Linked DNA regions of Homo sapiens: region 1 is linked to region 2. The links come from fine-mapping of genetic effects on plasma protein levels. A gene starts in region 2. The other region holds a variant in brackets. All regions are shown on one strand. Distances are from middle to middle.

Region 1 (8,403 bases), 49 kb after region 2:
CTCTCCTCGTCTCTGCTGCTTCACTTTTGTCACTTTCTCCAAGTCTTTTGGGTTTGTCTAGCTGCAGATGTTTTCTCTCATCCTCATCATTTATGCTTCCAGATCAGTTTTCCTGTCATTCTTATTCAGCTTTTATCTCTGTCACATTCTCTCTGAAAGTGTCGTTAAATATATATACATATGTATGTATATACATTTTTTTTTTTGAGACGGAGTCTCACTCTGTCACCCAGGCTGGAGTGCAGTGGCGCGATCTCAGCTCACTGCAAGCTCCGCCTCCCAGGTTCACGCCATTCTCCTCCCTCAGCCTCCTGAGTAGCTGGGGCTACAGGTGGACGCCACCAAGCCCGGCTAATTTCTTGTATTTTAGTGGAGAAGGGGTTTCGCCATGTTGCCCAGGCTGGTTGCCAACTCCTGAGCTCAGGTAATCCGCCCGCCTCAGCCTCCCAAAGTGCTGGGATTACAGGCGTGAGCCACCGTGCCCGGCCCTAAATATATTTTTAACCAACCCAGAAAAAATTAAAAAGTATATCCCAGGTGGCAGGTGAACTAAATACCTGGTTCACTTTATTTAACCTCGGGTTTGTTTTTGTTAGTGTTATGAAGACGTAGCTCCCCTCCTCCTAAGGCCTCATGCCCTTTTCTGTTAACAGTCCCTTCCAATGGGGCAGCCATGGTCACTATTGCCAGATGCAACTGTTTGAGGGAATGGAGAGGATTGTAATCTGAGGCTTCTGAAATTGTAAAGTGAAAGAGGAGATCTGGTAAAAGGGGCGAAGATCAGCTGAAGGAAGGTCAGATGTGAGTACAGCAGCAACGGTTACATTCCCACCCTGGGCTGCAGAGGCAGGTGGGCTGCAGAGGCAGGTGGGCTCCTGGCCTCTCTCTCCAAGTGGAGTGGGAGGCTGAAACCATAGCAACACTGAGGTTAGCACACAAGGCAGGTGACATTAAGCAACATCCTCTCCTTCTTCCCTAAACCACAGCAGCCCCTGCGAACCTGTACAGCTCCATGAGCCTCCTCCAGCCTTCACTGCTGCCCCAGGCCCCCAGGCCCTTAAGAATTCCTGCTGGAAAAAAGCAGGCCGTGGCACAACTGAGATTTCCTTGTGTCAGTGTGAAGATGATCCAGCTCTTCTGCATGTTATTGCAGAAATCATAGAGACGAAACAGGATGGGGTGGCCTGGAAGGAGCATGGAAGATGAAGCCGCAGCTGAGGAAGAAGGCAGCTCTGCTGCTCCACTCTACCCTAGACCAAGAAGGTTCCTCTTTTCTAAATGGGGAAGAAACTCATTTTGACACTCCCTTCCTCCTATGTTTGAATAAATCAAGAAGCGTATCTGCACTGTGCAGTGAAAGCCACCTGCCTGCCTGGAGAAAGAGAAACTACTGCCCAGCACTCTGAGCTCTTCGACCTCTGGACGATGATCATCTCACACCCAAGCAGAAATATCCAGCAGCCCTCTGCTCCCTCCGGGCTGGGTCCTAACCAACTCTGGACTTGCTCAGGTTTCTCATGCTCCAACCCCTAACCCTGTCTGCAAACACATGCACCATTTCACATCATCCATCAGAACTCTTCGCATGGCCCAGCCTCCACTGCCAGCTGTATAATTTTAGTGCTTTAGATAACCTTAGAGGTTATCTACTGAGTCTGTCCACACTTCCGGCAGATTGGAACACTGAGGCCCAGAGGAGCTGAGTGAATTGTCCCTGTGCACATAACCCCTTGTGGCAGGGGCAGGCCAAGGGCAACCCTCTCTGAATAGTGTGGTCAGTGTTTTTAACACCGAAGCTCTCAAAAGAACTAATGTTTACTGAGCACCTAGAATGAGGGTGACCATATGTCCTAGATCACCCAAGTCAGTCCCAGGCCACACCTGCCCCCTTTCACACTCAGCTGTCCCAATTTAGACTATGCATCACGTATGGTCCCTGTACATATGTCTATTGTGTTATGTGTTGAGTGAGATGGAGTCAAGGATGATACTGACCCCTTCTTCTGAGGACTTAGGACCAACAAGAGACATGTCTACAACAACCGGCCCATTCTTCAGTAAGTCAAAAGAGCCATGGGGAACTTGAGAGTGATAAGGATTAATTCAGACTGGGCTAGAGAGGTGCCTGTGGTTGAATCCCAGCTCATGTGGACTTTTGACCACATGATCTGGTCCTCAAACCACAGGCAGCAGTTTGACAGTTTGAGAAGGGAGGAAACTTGTGCCAAGGGTAGCACAAGCAGAAGTAAGTCAGTAGACAGCTGTTTGGTGAAAATTTCCACATTCCAGGTCCTGAGAACACCAAGATGGGTGAGACACAGGCCCTGGGAGCTCAAGACAGATTTGGGAAGAGTGAGGATTGGGAGCCAGGCACCACTTCTCCAGTCTGAGACCAAGGGGCTGGTTCAGAGCTTCGGAGAGCAATGCCCAGCTGTAACCTCCCAGATTTTTCCTTGACTGCAGCCCTCATTAGTTATTTATTTACTTATTTTTAGAAATAGGTTGTCCCTCTGTCACCCATTCTGAAATAGTGGTGTGATCATAGCTCACTGCAGCCTCAAACTCCTGGGCTCAGGAGATCCTCCCACTAGCCTCAGGAGTAGCTAGGACTACAGGTGCATGCCATCACGCATTGCTAATTTTTTTACTTTTTGTAGAGTCGGGTTCTCACTATGATGCTGAGGCTGGCCTCAAACTTGGTCCTCAAGTGAGCCTCCCACCTTGGCCTTCCAAAGCATTGGGATTACAGCTGTGAGCCATTGCTCCTGGCCTGGTTATGTATTTTTCACTGCCCTGCACCACCTGTGCACACCTGCATTCCTTACCTGGAAGACCCACCCATGGCATTACAGTTTATAGTGTTCCTAACAAGGCCTACCACAGTGTTTGTACACTGAAAGATCCTGGTGAACATTTCTTAGTAAACTACACATATCCATTTGCCAGCCAGTGTATGGTCTCCTGGTTCCCTTATCCCAGGGCATGAGCAATGTGTTGCAGCCTGGGGCTCAGGAATGGTGAGCAGGCGTGGGTGGAGAAATTTATAAAGAGGCTGTGGAAAGGGAGAGGGAAAAGACACTAGGGAGGCCAAGGAAGGAGGTGAGCTCTGAGGAGAACAGGGTACATCTACATATCGAACATCTTACCTCCTGAGACCAGCTGCGCTGCAGACTTGAGCCAGCTCTCACACGCAATAGGTGATTCCGAGGACACACGGGAATGCAAGAGGCCCATGACAAGTACAAATAGGGTTCCATTCTGATGTATACACACCCCCACCCTTCTATGTGCAGTTTTTCAGGCCCTTCTGCAAAGTGCCCATGAGGCTGACCACGCAGGCTTGGAGGGTCAACAC[G/A]CAGTGCGCGCAGGGAAATGCAGAGCCCAGGCTCTGCGCACTTTCTGGTAGCTGCTGCCCCCTGCTGACACAGCAAGACCTTGACAGCCCAAGAAGGTCATCTCCGCTCTTCCTGCCAGGCAGAGTAGGAGCATCTACAGATGGGTTGATTCCACACCCCACAAATACGTACAATTACAATATGTCAATTTTAAAAGATGTCTAAAGGCTGGAAGCATAACCAGGCATGGTGGCTCATGCCTGTAATCCCAGCAATTTGGGAGGCCGAGGTAGGGGGATCGTTTGAGCCCAGGAGTTTAAGACCACCCTGGGCAACACAGGGAAACCCCGCCTCCAAAATAATCCAAAAATTAGCTGGGCATGGTGGGACACACCTGTAGTCCCAGCTACTTGGTAGGCTGAGGTGGGAGGATCTCTTGAGCCGAGAAGGTCGAGGTTGCAGTGAGCCAAGATCACATCACTGCACTCCAGCCTGGGCTAGAACGAGTGTCACAAAAACAAACAAAAAAAAAGGCAAAGAGCAGTGGTTCAAGCCTGTAATCCCAGCACTTTAGGTCAAGGAGGGAGGACTGCTTAAGTCCAAGAGTTCAAAACCATTTTGGGCAACACTGCAATACATCTCTACAGAGAAAAAAAAAATTAAGTTAAAAATTAGCGGGGTATGGTGGTGTGCATCTGTGGTCGTAGCTACTAGGGAAGCTGAGACAGAAAGATTGCTCGAGCCCAGGAGTCCCACGCCGCAGTGAGTTATGATTGCACCACTGCACTCCAGTCTGAGCAACAGCGCAAAACCCTGTCTCATAATAAAATAAATATTAAAAATTAAATTTTTAAAAAGGCAGTGGGGTTGTCATGCTTGTCAAAAATCATATCCAGATGAGGAGGGAAACACAACCCTTTCATAGAGTCCACTTGCCTAGCGCAAGATGGGATGAAGCCTCCGTGAGTTAAGCACTCCGAGGCTGTGAAGAGGTGCTAACAGGAATCGCTGCACCTCAGATCCACTGATGTAGCAGCATGCCACACATGCCTCTATGCTCCCATTTTATAGGCGATAAAATTGAAGCGTCATGAAATTTGAGAATTCCCATAGAGATGTGATCCTGGGATTGTGCATCACCAGGTCCTGACCTCCAAACTGCTGTACTGATAAACCCACCTGATACAGCTGTGGGCTAAGAGAAGGGGCAAGAAGCAAAAGCACATTTCCTGAGCATCTGTTGGTGAGAGCCTGTGTCAGGTGTTGGGTAGACTGAGGCCCCAGCCCCACACTTGAGGAAGATGAAGATCAGAACAATTCATTACCAACAGGCCAATGTAACATGTAACATGACACAGTACAGGAATGGGGGATGGGGCCCTATGTCCCCCACACCTTGACCATCTCTTCCTCACCTTAAACAAAATTTCTCGACCCTCTTTGCTGGGAGAAGGAGCTAAGAAACAGTATTCCCACTTCTCATCTCTTCTTCCCAGCAAAACTTCCTCGGAGATGACTACCTCCACTTCCTCACCTCCTGTTCCTGTGAGCCCAGTGGTTCAAGCGTTTGGACTCTAGAGTCCAAGTGCCTAGTGGGAGCCGCCTCCGTTACCTTCAGCAAGGCTGAGTACCCCCCATTGTGCCTTATTTTCTTACCGTGGAAAGGAAATCATAGTGTTTATCTGTCCTATAACATTGTTGTAGAGATTAATTAGGGGCGTTCCTGGTACGTGAAATGCACTGGATGAGTACAAGTTACTACAACGAGGGTGGGAGGGAGGGAGCTCTTCGGCTTCTGTCTTCTTCTCCTTAGAAGTACCATTGGCTCTAACCTTCCTGGTCTCTCTTCCCGCCTGCCGCATCTTCTAGGTGATTTTGCAAGGAGAAACGCACGTGCATGGCATAGCCCTTCTTTTCTAGGGCTCTTCTGTACCAGGAGCCTCACAGGTCCTGCCTGCCAGTGACTGGGTAGGGAAGTCCAGCACTGTGTGTCATCTCAGAAAGCCCTTCATTAGGACTATAATACTGTATTATAGACTGAAAATTTGCTGAGAGTAGATTTTAGGCGGTTTCACAACAAAAAAGGGGGGAGGTAACTGCAAAATGATAGGCCAATTTGATACCTATTTCATTATGTGCATCAAAATACCATGTTGTTCACCTCCTATACATACAATTTAAAAAATTTAAAAAGCCCACTCACCCAAAAACATATGCTATGCATTTTCATAGCAGCTTTTCTAGTAATAAAATATTATGACACCCATCTGCCAAGTCAGGGAAGGCAATCTCAAACTCCTGGACAGCACCCATCCAAAGGCACAGTGAGTGCTCAGCACATAGCGGCCCCAGATGGCCCCTCAGATGGCGTCCACAGCCACCAGGGTCACTGCTCTGATTGCGTGCCTCCAATTCTTGGCCTTCACCCTGCCCCTTGACCCCAAGGTTTCTGGTCTTCCTCCCTGCCAGCACCTTCTTCTTCCCTTGGCTGACCTCTTCTCAACAAAACTCCAAATACTGGTACACTCCAAGTGCAGCTCAGGCTAAACAAAGCCTTTTGCTCTTCTTCAAAGCTCCTGGAGTTCACATCCCTATCCAATCTCCCACCTGTGAGTTCAAGTGCCCTCAAACCCCTCCCATCCCCCAGCCAGTCAAGCCCTGACTTGGAAGTCACCTTTTATCTAGGTTTTAATTTCAGAGAAACAACGGATAATTCATAATGTAAGTACATCCTAAACACTGCAGCAGACAAAAATACTGCCTATCTGAAATTTCAGTGGGTTCACTGTATTGATAAATCTGGCATCACTACTTGTGTCCCTTCTCTACATTCATGCTCACATCCAGACACATCTAAGATCCCAACCCTCTGGCACTCTCATCTCTTAGCTCAGACAGAGCCCACTCCACCCCGCAGGCCCCTTTCTACCAAACCCTCTCCTGGCACCCATCACCTCACACAGCATGGCCCCATGAGGCACCAACTCCTCCCCTGCTTCTCTACACTTGCCCTGTACATGACCACCCTGGCCATGGGGCCTTCCACCCCCGCAAGAGCATGCATAGCGCAGCTCACTCAATCTGGTCCTTCACCTCCCTTCCCTGACCACACCATCTAAAAAGCCTGCCGCCTAACCCTGCTCTTCCCTTGCCCAACCCTTGCCTCATCTTTGCCCCTTTTCTCTTCCTCCAGCAAGGACAGTAGATGTTAACTGTTACATAAACTACTTTATTTAAATAAAACCAGGAAAGACCCTTTCCCCCTTACACACCAGCACATGCACACACGCACACCCACACCCTCCCTCCCTTTCGGCTGTCTGCCCATGGCCACCTCAAACCCCGAGGTTCTCATTGTGACCAACCTCCCTCAACCTGTAGACCCCCGTGCAGAGTCCAGTTGCCCACGCATCCCGGTTGCTGGCAGAACATGGGCCTAGAAAAGAGCACTCCATCTTCCTGGGGTGGGTCAAAAGGAAGGACTGGTTCTCCCAAGGCACCCAGATCTGGTGTGGCTTCCCTACAAACTGGGAGCACTGCCAGGCAGCTGGAGCTGCTCCCTGCGGAGGGCAGAACTTTTCACCCCAAGCCAACCCCTCCCTGTAACAAAGGAAGTAAGAGGGTTGGCAGCCAAGCTTCAGTGTGCCCCGAGGGATCCTGCAGTAGGTATTTTCAGTTTGGGGAAGAGCAAGGGAGAGCAATTGAGCACCAAATTCCCTAACCCCGTCCTGCAGGAGGGTGCTGAGTCAGTTCAGCATCCTCTACCCAGAAAAAGTAAACACAACTGTGCAGCAAGAGTGAGGGTGGGAATGACAGGGGCCTAAGCCTTCAGGACCTCATGACTTCACCCCCAACATGGGCCCTCTTAGGGACCCACTAGCACCTTGGCAATGTTGAGGACCCAGCCCAGCGGAAACACCATACCCACAGGAGCCAGTCTGGAGTTGGTGATGCTCCCTATGTTGACAGTGGGGTTGGGTTTCTCTCCCTGACACCAGCTTCCTGCAGGCCCTGTAAGTTCTGCTTTGGGGCACACATCGCAGAGTGCCTCAGGTCATGAAAGGGAATGCTGAAGGGAAAGGTGGTGTCTTCCGGAGGCACACAGTACATCTTACAGGTTACACACGGGCAGGCTGGAGCAGGACGGGGGGCAGGGCTCAGCAGCATACCTAGGGTACCCTCCAGAGTTGCCTTGGGAAGGGGGGCGGGGCTGGAAACCAACGGGAGGGGTGACTGTCCATCCCCTCCGACGGGAGTACTCAGGCCCAGCACCCATTTTCTCTGATGAGCTTCCCAGTGCCTTCTAGACCAAGTTCCCTGAGGGAAAAAGCCAAACAGATGGAAAGAGAGGGAGCAGAAAGGGAAAGCAAAGGGTCAATGCCCTGCAGATCGTGATGAGCTGGCAGGCAGAGGCAGACAGAGCGCCGAGGGCGAGCCTTCTGAATGGGTAAGGCAAAGAGAGCCGCCTGCTGAGGGGAAGGGGGAGGCTGTGAGAACGCCAGGGCAGGCACAGAGGACTCGAACACAGCTGGCCTCTCCCAGGGAAGCACTGGAGAAGGGGACCTTCGGGAAGACGAGGCCCCAGAGGAGAGGGCGTGAGAAGACTGTGGGCCCCAACCGGCCCGTGGTGGCAGATTCAAGCCAGGAACCCTGGCCCCTCGGCTACAGGCTGACGCTGCGCTGGTGCCGACCCCCACGGGCTCCGCCGTCGCTGCCCCGGCGCCCTCCACTCCGCGTTCCCAGCTCTTGGCCGTCCAGACTGACGTGGTCCGAGAGGCCTCGCAAGTGCTCCACGGAGTCGCACTTCTGCAGGTCTGAAGCCACCGTGCGCAGGCTCAGCAGACTCAGGGTATCGGTGTCGGGGGCGGGGCCGGGCCCCAGGCTGCTGCCCTCCTCCAGCCCCGCACCCTCGGCCCCCTCAATCCCGCTGTCTCCGTCCTCCATGTCCTCGGGTCCTGCCTCGGCCCCCACGGGGGAGGAGCGCCGAGGGCCCAGGGGGTGGGGAGGCAGACCCCCGCGGCGCCGTGCGTGAATCTGCTCGCTGATCTGCTCCAGGTTACGAAGGGCC
Region 2 (8,237 bases):
CACCTAGCAGAGAAACAGAGCCTGGGAGTGACCCCATAGCAGGACCCAGGGCCGTGCTCAACACCTCTGTGGGTAAGAGGGACCAGTGAAGCTGGGGCTCAAGGCAGGGCCCCCACCTGGGACATGAGAAGAAGTGGCATCTTAGGCCGTTTCACTAGGTACTTCCCACTGGCAAAGTTTTATTGCGGAATCTTTTCGACAGCCTGGCAGGGTCCTGCTATAATTGCTGTCATCTTCCACAGAGAAAGCTGGAGCCTAGAGAGGCTGTGAGGACACAAAACCACACAGAATGAAGAATGTCACACACAGAATGATGCACAGAACACGCACACACTACACACAAACCACACACACAGTAGCAGATGGCAAAACAACAAGAAAACTACATCCCCAGCCCACATCCTCCCTGAACTCCAGACTTCCCTCTCCTGAGCATACGACTGCCTAGGGCAATGCCAAAGGAGCAAGAGCCGCAAGAATGTCCTGGACTTGGCCGGGGAAGGACCTGAGCTGGTCCTGAATGCCCTTCCTGCGGTTTCAGCTTCTCCCAGGGCTCAGGCCCCGGCCTCGCAGTCCTCTCACCTTCTGGATCTGGCCTGGTGACTGTCCTACAGAAGGTGGTTCCCAGTAGAGGCTTAGGGCTGGTATGGGAGAGGCCTTATATAGCAGGTGGCTGTAAAATCAAAAAGCACAGCTGTCTTCTGGGGTGGGACCTCTGGGTCAGACAGGCTAAGGCTTCTGGCTCTCAGACTGTGCCCTGCCCAATAGAGCTACAGGCTGCCCAACCCTTTGGCATCTGTGCAGCTCGTGCCCTCTCTGAGACCTCTAGGAATTGGGAACAACTTTGGTCAAGGCCTGCCTTTGGCAAAATGTAAACAGGAGTAAGGTATCTTCCAGCATTGTCTGTGGCCTTCTAAGTCAATTCCATGACCTGCTAATGACAAGCACCTAACAACCTGCTAACAGTCACCATGATTAGCCCATTTATAGATGAGAAAACCAAAGCACAGAAAGAGAGCCATAAGAGATATGCTCATGGGCACACAGCCGGGGCACAGTCAGAACTCAGAGCTCCGAATCAGACTATGTGGGGTCTGTGCAACTCAGGAAAGGGCCTCAGTTTCCCACAGGCAAGTGTCTTAACCTTGTTAGATTTGAGGGTCCTCCAACCAAGATGAGTGTAAACTCACTGTGCAGCCTCATAGTGTGGTAGAGGGACCATGACGTGAAGCCCCTGCCTGCAGTGTGCTCTGCACACTGGGTGAGAGCCCACAGCAGCCATCGAGAGAGTCTTTCTGGCCAAGTGATCTGAGCAGCTACTGGTAACAGCCCAGGTCAGGTCAACTGAGGCCTCTCTGTATTAGTCAGGTTCTCTGTCCTCTAGAGAAGGTGAGTTTATATATGTATGAAGGGGAGTTCATTAAGGAGTATTGACTCACATGATCACAGGGTGAAGTCCCACAATAGGCTGTCTGTGACCTGAAGACCAAGGAAGCCAGTCTGAGTCCCAAAACCTCAAAAGTGCAGCCTTCAGTCTGTGGCTGATGGCCTGAGAGCCCCTGGCAAACCACTGGTGTAGGCCCAAGAGTCCCAAAGCCGAAGAACTTGGAGTCCGATGTTTGAGGGAAGGAAGCATCCAGCATGGGAGAAAGATGGAGACTGGGAGACTCAGCCAGTCTGGTCCTTCCTCGTTCTGCTGCCTGCTTTTATCCTAGCTGTGTTGGCAGTTGATTAGATGATGTCCACCCAGATGTAGGCTGGGAGGCTAGGCCAGTCTAGCCTTTTGACATTTTTCTGCCTGCTTTATATTCTAGCAGAGCTGGCAGCTGATCAGATGGTGCCCACCCAGACTGAGGGTGGCTCTGCCTCTGCCAGTCCACGGACTCGAGTGTTAATCTCCTTTGGCAACACCCTCACAGACACATCCAGGAACAATACTTTGCAATACTTTTCAATCCAATCATGTTGACACTCAATATTAACCCTCACACTCTCCCAGTCTCCTCACACTGTGCCATGGGTGCTCCTGGTTTTGAGTGTGGACTTGAGTTATCTTCCCTCCTCATCTTTCCACTGTGCTGACACTTTATACACACACGGTGGGGAGTGGGAGGAGCCCACTCAGCCGAGGATGCAGAGGTTGAGGGGCACACATCATACCAGTATCCCCCAGCCTGCATTTAAACCTTGCAGTTCCCTGCTCTTGAAAATACCCCTTGGGGATGGCTACGCTACCTGTGTCTCAGCTCTCTCTTCCTTCCCCAAACTCATGCATTCATTCAACAAACATTTTTTGAGCACCCTCCCTGTCTTAGGCCTACTGTAGGAAACCGGGAGGTATTTGTGAGCAAAAAGACAAAGACCTTTGCCCTCCTGGAGTGTAGTCTAGAGAGGACTACAGACAACATAAATTAAAGTGGTAAATAAGCAAATCACAGGGAAAGTCAGAATGTGGTGACTGCTCTGGCAAAAAGACAAAGAGTAGGATAAGTCATCAACCATGCTAGGGGGTGAGCAGGTGCAGGCTTCCACTTTCAATGAGGAGGTTGTAGTAGGTCTCATGGAGAAGACAAAATCTGAGTTATTTTTATAAGCAGAGACTCTGGCCATCTCTTATTCTCTCCTCTCCTCACCATCTGCCTTCAGGCTGCTTATCACAGCATTTTCCTAAAAAAAAAAAAAAGCAGCTTCCTCCCTAACAGAACCATATTGTTTCCCAGCACACATTAGTCAGTCACCTGGCAGGGCACAACAAGAGAAGTGGCACAGTAATATCCAATGGGGTGTGTGTGGGCTTGCGGGTTTCAGGAATGTGGCCTCCCTGAGCCACCGATGGAGGATCCAAAGAGCTCATGAACACTGCCTCTGAGATAACAGCTCTGGTGTCAGGCTGAGTACTGGCATGAGAAAATCGGGCTGATCAATGTTAATTCCTCTCAGAAGGCACCAGATACTCAGGCAAATGGACCCAAAGCGACCACAAAGATCTGAGTCTGAATCCAGACTTTGTCCCTCACATCACATAAGTTACTTATTAACCGCACTTGTTGGGCCAGAGCTCTTTGTCTTTAAAATGGAATCATCAGGCCCTGAAGAAATGCCTCCTGATGATTTATTTACTCCTGGAATCATCACCCCATTCCTCTGTGTTTTTCCAAGGCCATCTATCTATCAATAATGTCCTGAGGACGTCTAACCATGTGGGAATTATTATTAATAGCACGTATGATTTTAACTGAGCCATTTATCAGTAAGGACACTGAAGACAATGGAAGCCCCCTGAACTAGGCTGCGCAGTCTATACGGCTGCTCACAGCAGTCCTGGGTTCATCCTTTTGAAGCCCCGGCAGTGCGCCAAGGGTACCCCCAGCTGCCTTGACAGATAAGGAAACAGGCCCAGGGAGGCCTTCCCTATAGGCCTTCAGACGCCTGGGCCAGCAATCTTTCCATTTCAACATGGCTCAGGTGGGACGCAGCCTCCACCCGCAGGATTGGAGACATCGACTTGACTCCACTCCTCCCTCTCCCAGAGGTTCACCTCTCTGTCATTAATGTGGGGTCCAAGGACCTGAATCAGTCACAGGGAATTATGAAAAAGCACCTCTCTAAAGCCGACTCCTCCTGACTAGCAAAGAAGTCCAGAGACCCAGGAGAAGCTAAGTCGCAACAAGCAGCCCAACTTTTAAACTAAGAAGCCCTGGGCACACCGTAGGCACCCTAGTTCCATCATCTTCTTAGAAGGGGACAAGGTTGGCTGTCCCTACAGCCTGCTGAGCTGAGGCAAACCTGGAGCTCAGCTGAGTCCCAGTGAGTCATCCGGTGGTAAATCTGGAACCACTTTAGGAAACGGCCTTTTCCCAAAGCTTCCCTTGATGACCAGCAAAGCTTGGAGGTGAGTTTCCAGGGGAGCCTACCCCATTTTGGAATAAGCATGTGGAGGTGTGTAGGGTCAGGTCAGGGAAGCTGGGGCAGGAATTATATCCAACAGGAGTCTAAGCCAAAGACTCAGCAAAAGGATCAAGAGCATCCACCCCTGACCCGCCTTCTCTCTGTGTTTGCTTCTGGGAGCCTTTCATTGACTAGCTCATTCCTCCCGCTTGGAGATGTGAGAATAGGCTAAAAATAATGAATTATTGCCCCCAACATTCCTGCCCCCCAGTCACCTTGCAGAGGAAATGAGCATATCCTGGAAGATAAACTTCCCCAATAGTCCATGGCCTTATGTAAGATGATGATCCCCCCGAGTCTTGGGTTTCCCATCTTTCAAGTGGCAAAAACAGCACTACGGCCTGAGTAGCTATTCTGAGGGTCAAAGGAGGTCGCACAAGCCGACAATGATGATGAAACTATCACTTCATAAAGGGCTCTAAAAACAATGGCTACTACTGCTATCATTGTTCTCTGAGCTCATATCGGCAACTGCACAGCCCAGAGGGACATTCGCATCTGCACAGGGCAATGGTCTGAGGTGAGGTCCAGCCTCAGAACACACTTCTACCACAATTAGATACTACTTCATGCCCACTAACACAAATAAAATCAAAAAGAAAGAAAGAAAAAGAGACAGAGAAAGAAAGAAAGAAAGAAAGAGAAGGAAGCAAGGAAAATTGCGAGCATTAGGAAGGATATGGAGAAATTGGAACCTTCATACACTACTGGTAGGAATGTAAAATGGTGCAGCCACTGTGGAAAGAGTTTGGCAGTTCCTCTAAGAGAGTTACCCATGACACAGCAATTCCACACCTAGGTATATACCCAATATAATTGAATGAAAACAACTGTTTATACAAAAACTTGTACATGAATAATCATAGCAGTATTATTAGACTTAATTTACGAGTATATATATATATATATGTGAAAGTTACGGGTGCAACTTTATACCATAACTTTCTTCACATCTCTCTTCCCCACTTCTGGTTTCTTTTTGCCTTTTCAAGTAAATGATTTTAAAATGGCTTCCAAATTACACAAAATTATTTTTTATAAAATGCAATTTACAGAATTATATATTAATTAGAATTTTTATTTCTAGTAATCTTAAATTTTAGTGAAAATGGGAAGCAAGAAATCTGAACTGTATGTCAGATGTTAGCATTTTATAGATAAAATTATTTCACTATTTCAGAACCATGTTTTCTCATATAATAATTATTTACATTGGAAATGACCCAGACATTCAATAAGCATTTGTTATTTAATTTAAAATAATGTTAAGATTTTACATTACACAAAAAGTCCACTTATAGGTATTTATCTCATGTATATGTATTTAATTAATTTATTTTTTAACAATTTAGATTACTCTTGAAAACCAAGGTATTATATAAAGTTAGTCATTATTTAAAGTTATTTCCCTAATAACCACAGAGGTCAATATAAAATTTATTTAGACAGAAATGTATGCTGATGACTCTAAAGACATTTTTATTATTTTACTAATAATTTTTGAAGCCAGTTTTATTTGTCAAAGATTCACATGAACTTGAAAACCATTTAGACTTAATTTGTGAGTACTTGTTTACTTATATGCCAATTTGGTAGCAAGATAGGTGAAACGAAAAGCTGGTTCTTTGAAAAGATAAATGAAATTGATAGACCACCAGTGAGACTAACCAAAAAAAGAAAAGAGGGGATCTAAATCAGCTCAATTAGAACAAAACAGGAGATATCACAACCGACACCACAGAAATACAAAAGACCATTCAAGGCTACTATGAACATCTTTACATGCATAAACTAGAAAACCTAGAGGAGATAAATAAATTCCTGGAAATATACAACCCTCCTAGATTAAACCAGAAAGAAAGAAAATATTTGAACAGACCAATAACAAGCAGAGAGATTGAAATGGTAAATTTTTTAAAAAGTTGCCAATAAAAAGAAGTCCAGGACCAGACAAACTCACAGCTAAATGCTATCAGACATTAAAAGAAGAGGTAGGCACAGTGGCTCATGCCTGTAATCCCAGCACTTTGGGAGGCCGAGGTGGGCGGATCACTTGAGGCCAGGAGTTCAAGACCAGCCTGGCCAACATGGTGAAACCCCATCTCTACTAAAAGTACAAAAATTAGCCAGGCATGATAGCGCACACCTGTAATTCCAGCTACTAGGGAGGCTGAGGCAAGAGAATTGCTTGAACCCAGGGGGTGGAGGTTGCAGTGAGCCAAGATCACGCCACTGCACTCCAGCCTGGGTGACAGAGCAAGACGCCCTCTCAAATAAATAAATAAATAATTGGTACCAATCTTATTGACACTATTACAAAAAGTAGAGAAAGACGGAATCCTCCCTAAATCATTCTATGAATCCAGTATCACCCTAATACCAAAACCAGTAAAGGATGTAACCGAAAAAGAAAACTACAGACCAATATCCCTGATGAATATAAATGCAAAAATCCTCAACAAAATACTAGCTAAGCAAATCCAACAGCAAATCAAAAAGATAATCCATCATGATCAAGTGGGTTCCATACCATGGATGCAGGGATGGTTTAACATATGTAAGTCGACTACCGAGCCAAGATGGCCGAATAGGAACAGCTCCGGTCTACAGCTCCCAGCGTGAGCGACACAGAAGACGGGTGATTTCTGCATTTCCATCTGAGGTACCGGGTTCATCTCACTAGGGAGTGCCAGACAGTGGGCGCAGGACAGTGGGTGCAGCGCACCATGCGTGAGCCGAAGCAGGGCGAGGCATTGCCTCACTCGGGAAGCACAAGGGATCAGGGAGTTCCCTTTCCTGGTCAAGGAAAGGGATGACAGACGGCACCTGGAAAATCGGGCCACTCCCACCCGAATACTGCGCTTTTCTGACAGGCTTAGGAAATGGTGCACCAGGAGATTATATCCCGCACCTGGCTCAGAGGGTCCTACGCCCACAGAGTCTCACTGATTGCTAGCACAGCAGTCTGAGATCAAACTGCAAGGTGGCAGCAAGGCTGGGGGAGGGGCGCCCACCATTGCCCAGGCTTGCTTAGATAAAGAAAGCAGCCGGAAGCTCGAACTGTGTGGAGCCCACCACAGCTCAAGGAGGCCTGCCTGCCTCTGTAGGCTCCACCTCTGGGGGCAGGGCACAGACAAACAAAAAGACAGCAGTAACCTCTGCAGGCTTAAATGTCCCTGTCTGACAGCTTTGAGGAGAGCAGTGGTTCTCCCAGCACACAGCTGGAGATCTGAGAACGGGCAGACTGCCTCCTCAAGTGGGTCCCTGACCCCTGACCCTTGAGCAGCCTAACTGGGAGGCACCCCTCAGTGGGGGCAGACTGACACCTCACACGGCCGGGTACTCCTCTGAGACAAAACTTCCCGAGGAACGATCAGACAGCAGCATTCACGGATCACGAAAATCCGCGGTTCTGCAGACACCGCTGCTGATACCCAGGCAAACAGGGTCTGGAGTGGACCTCTAGCAAACTCCAACAGACCTGCAGCTGAGGGTCCTGTCTGTTAGAAGGAAAACTAACAAACAGAAAGGAAATCCACACCAAAAACCCATCTGTACATCACCATCATCAAAGACCAAAAGTAGATAAAACCACAAAGATGGGGAAAAAACAGAGCAGAAAAACTGGAAACTCTAAAAAGCAGAGCACCTCTCCTCCTCCAAAGGAACGCAGTTCCTCACCAGCAATGGAACAAAGCTGGACGGAGAATGACTTTGACGAGTTGAGAGAAGAAGGCTTCAGACAATCAAATTACTCCGAGCTACAGGAGGAAATTCAAACCAAAGGCAAAGAAGTTGAAAACTTTGAAAAAAATTTAGACAAATGTATAACTAGAATAACCAATACAGAGAAGTCCTTAAAGGAGCTGATGGAGCTGAAAGCCAAGGCTTGAGAACTACGTGAAGAATGCAGAAGCCTCAGGAGCCGATGCGATCAACTGGGAGAAAGGATATCAGTGATGGAAGATGAAATGAATGAAATGAAGTGAGAAAGGAAGTTTAGAGAAAAAAGAATAAAAAGAAATGAACAAAGCCTCCAAGAAATATGGGACTATGTGAAAAGACCAAATCTACGTCTGATTAGTGTACCTGAAAGTGACGGGGAGAATGGAACCAAGTTGGAAAACACTATGCAGGTTATTATCCAGGAGAACTTCCCCAATCTAGCAAAGCAGGCCAACATTCAGATTCAGGAAATACAGAGAATGCCACAAAGATACTCCTCGAGAAGAGCAACTCCAAGACACATAATTGTCAGATTCACCAAAGTTGTAATGCAGGAAAAAATG

Which allele goes with the higher level. Alleles are on the strand shown, and positions count from the first base shown. The strength of an association depends on the size of the effect and on how common the allele is.
For the plasma level of the protein whose gene starts at base 637 in region 2, G is the high allele of the variant in region 1 and A is the other (moderate association).

The links. PIP is the posterior inclusion probability: the model's chance that the variant is causal. The UK Biobank Pharma Proteomics Project read protein levels with antibody pairs (Olink). The fine-mapping took linkage between variants from a reference panel, not from the people measured, so its PIPs are less certain.
Region 1: its variant is fine-mapped to the plasma level of the LYPD8 protein (UK Biobank, PIP above 0.99).

The regions. Positions count from the first base shown.
Region 1 is chr1:248,803,903-248,812,305 of GRCh38, forward strand. SH3BP5L (SH3 binding domain protein 5 like) reads right to left here. Exons shown (of 7, transcript NM_030645.3): 7 at 6,544-8,403. The coding sequence ends at 7,998. LOC124904577 (a long non-coding RNA gene) reads right to left here and starts at 3,616. Exons shown (of 2, transcript XR_007067008.1): 1 at 3,147-3,616. RefSeq lists an enhancer at 1,351-1,560. The variant G/A (reference allele first, on the strand shown) is at 3,356.
Region 2 is chr1:248,755,123-248,763,359 of GRCh38, forward strand. It overlaps LYPD8 (LY6/PLAUR domain containing 8), which reads right to left and starts at 637. Exons shown (of 7, transcript NM_001085474.2): 1 at 583-637; 2 at 117-264.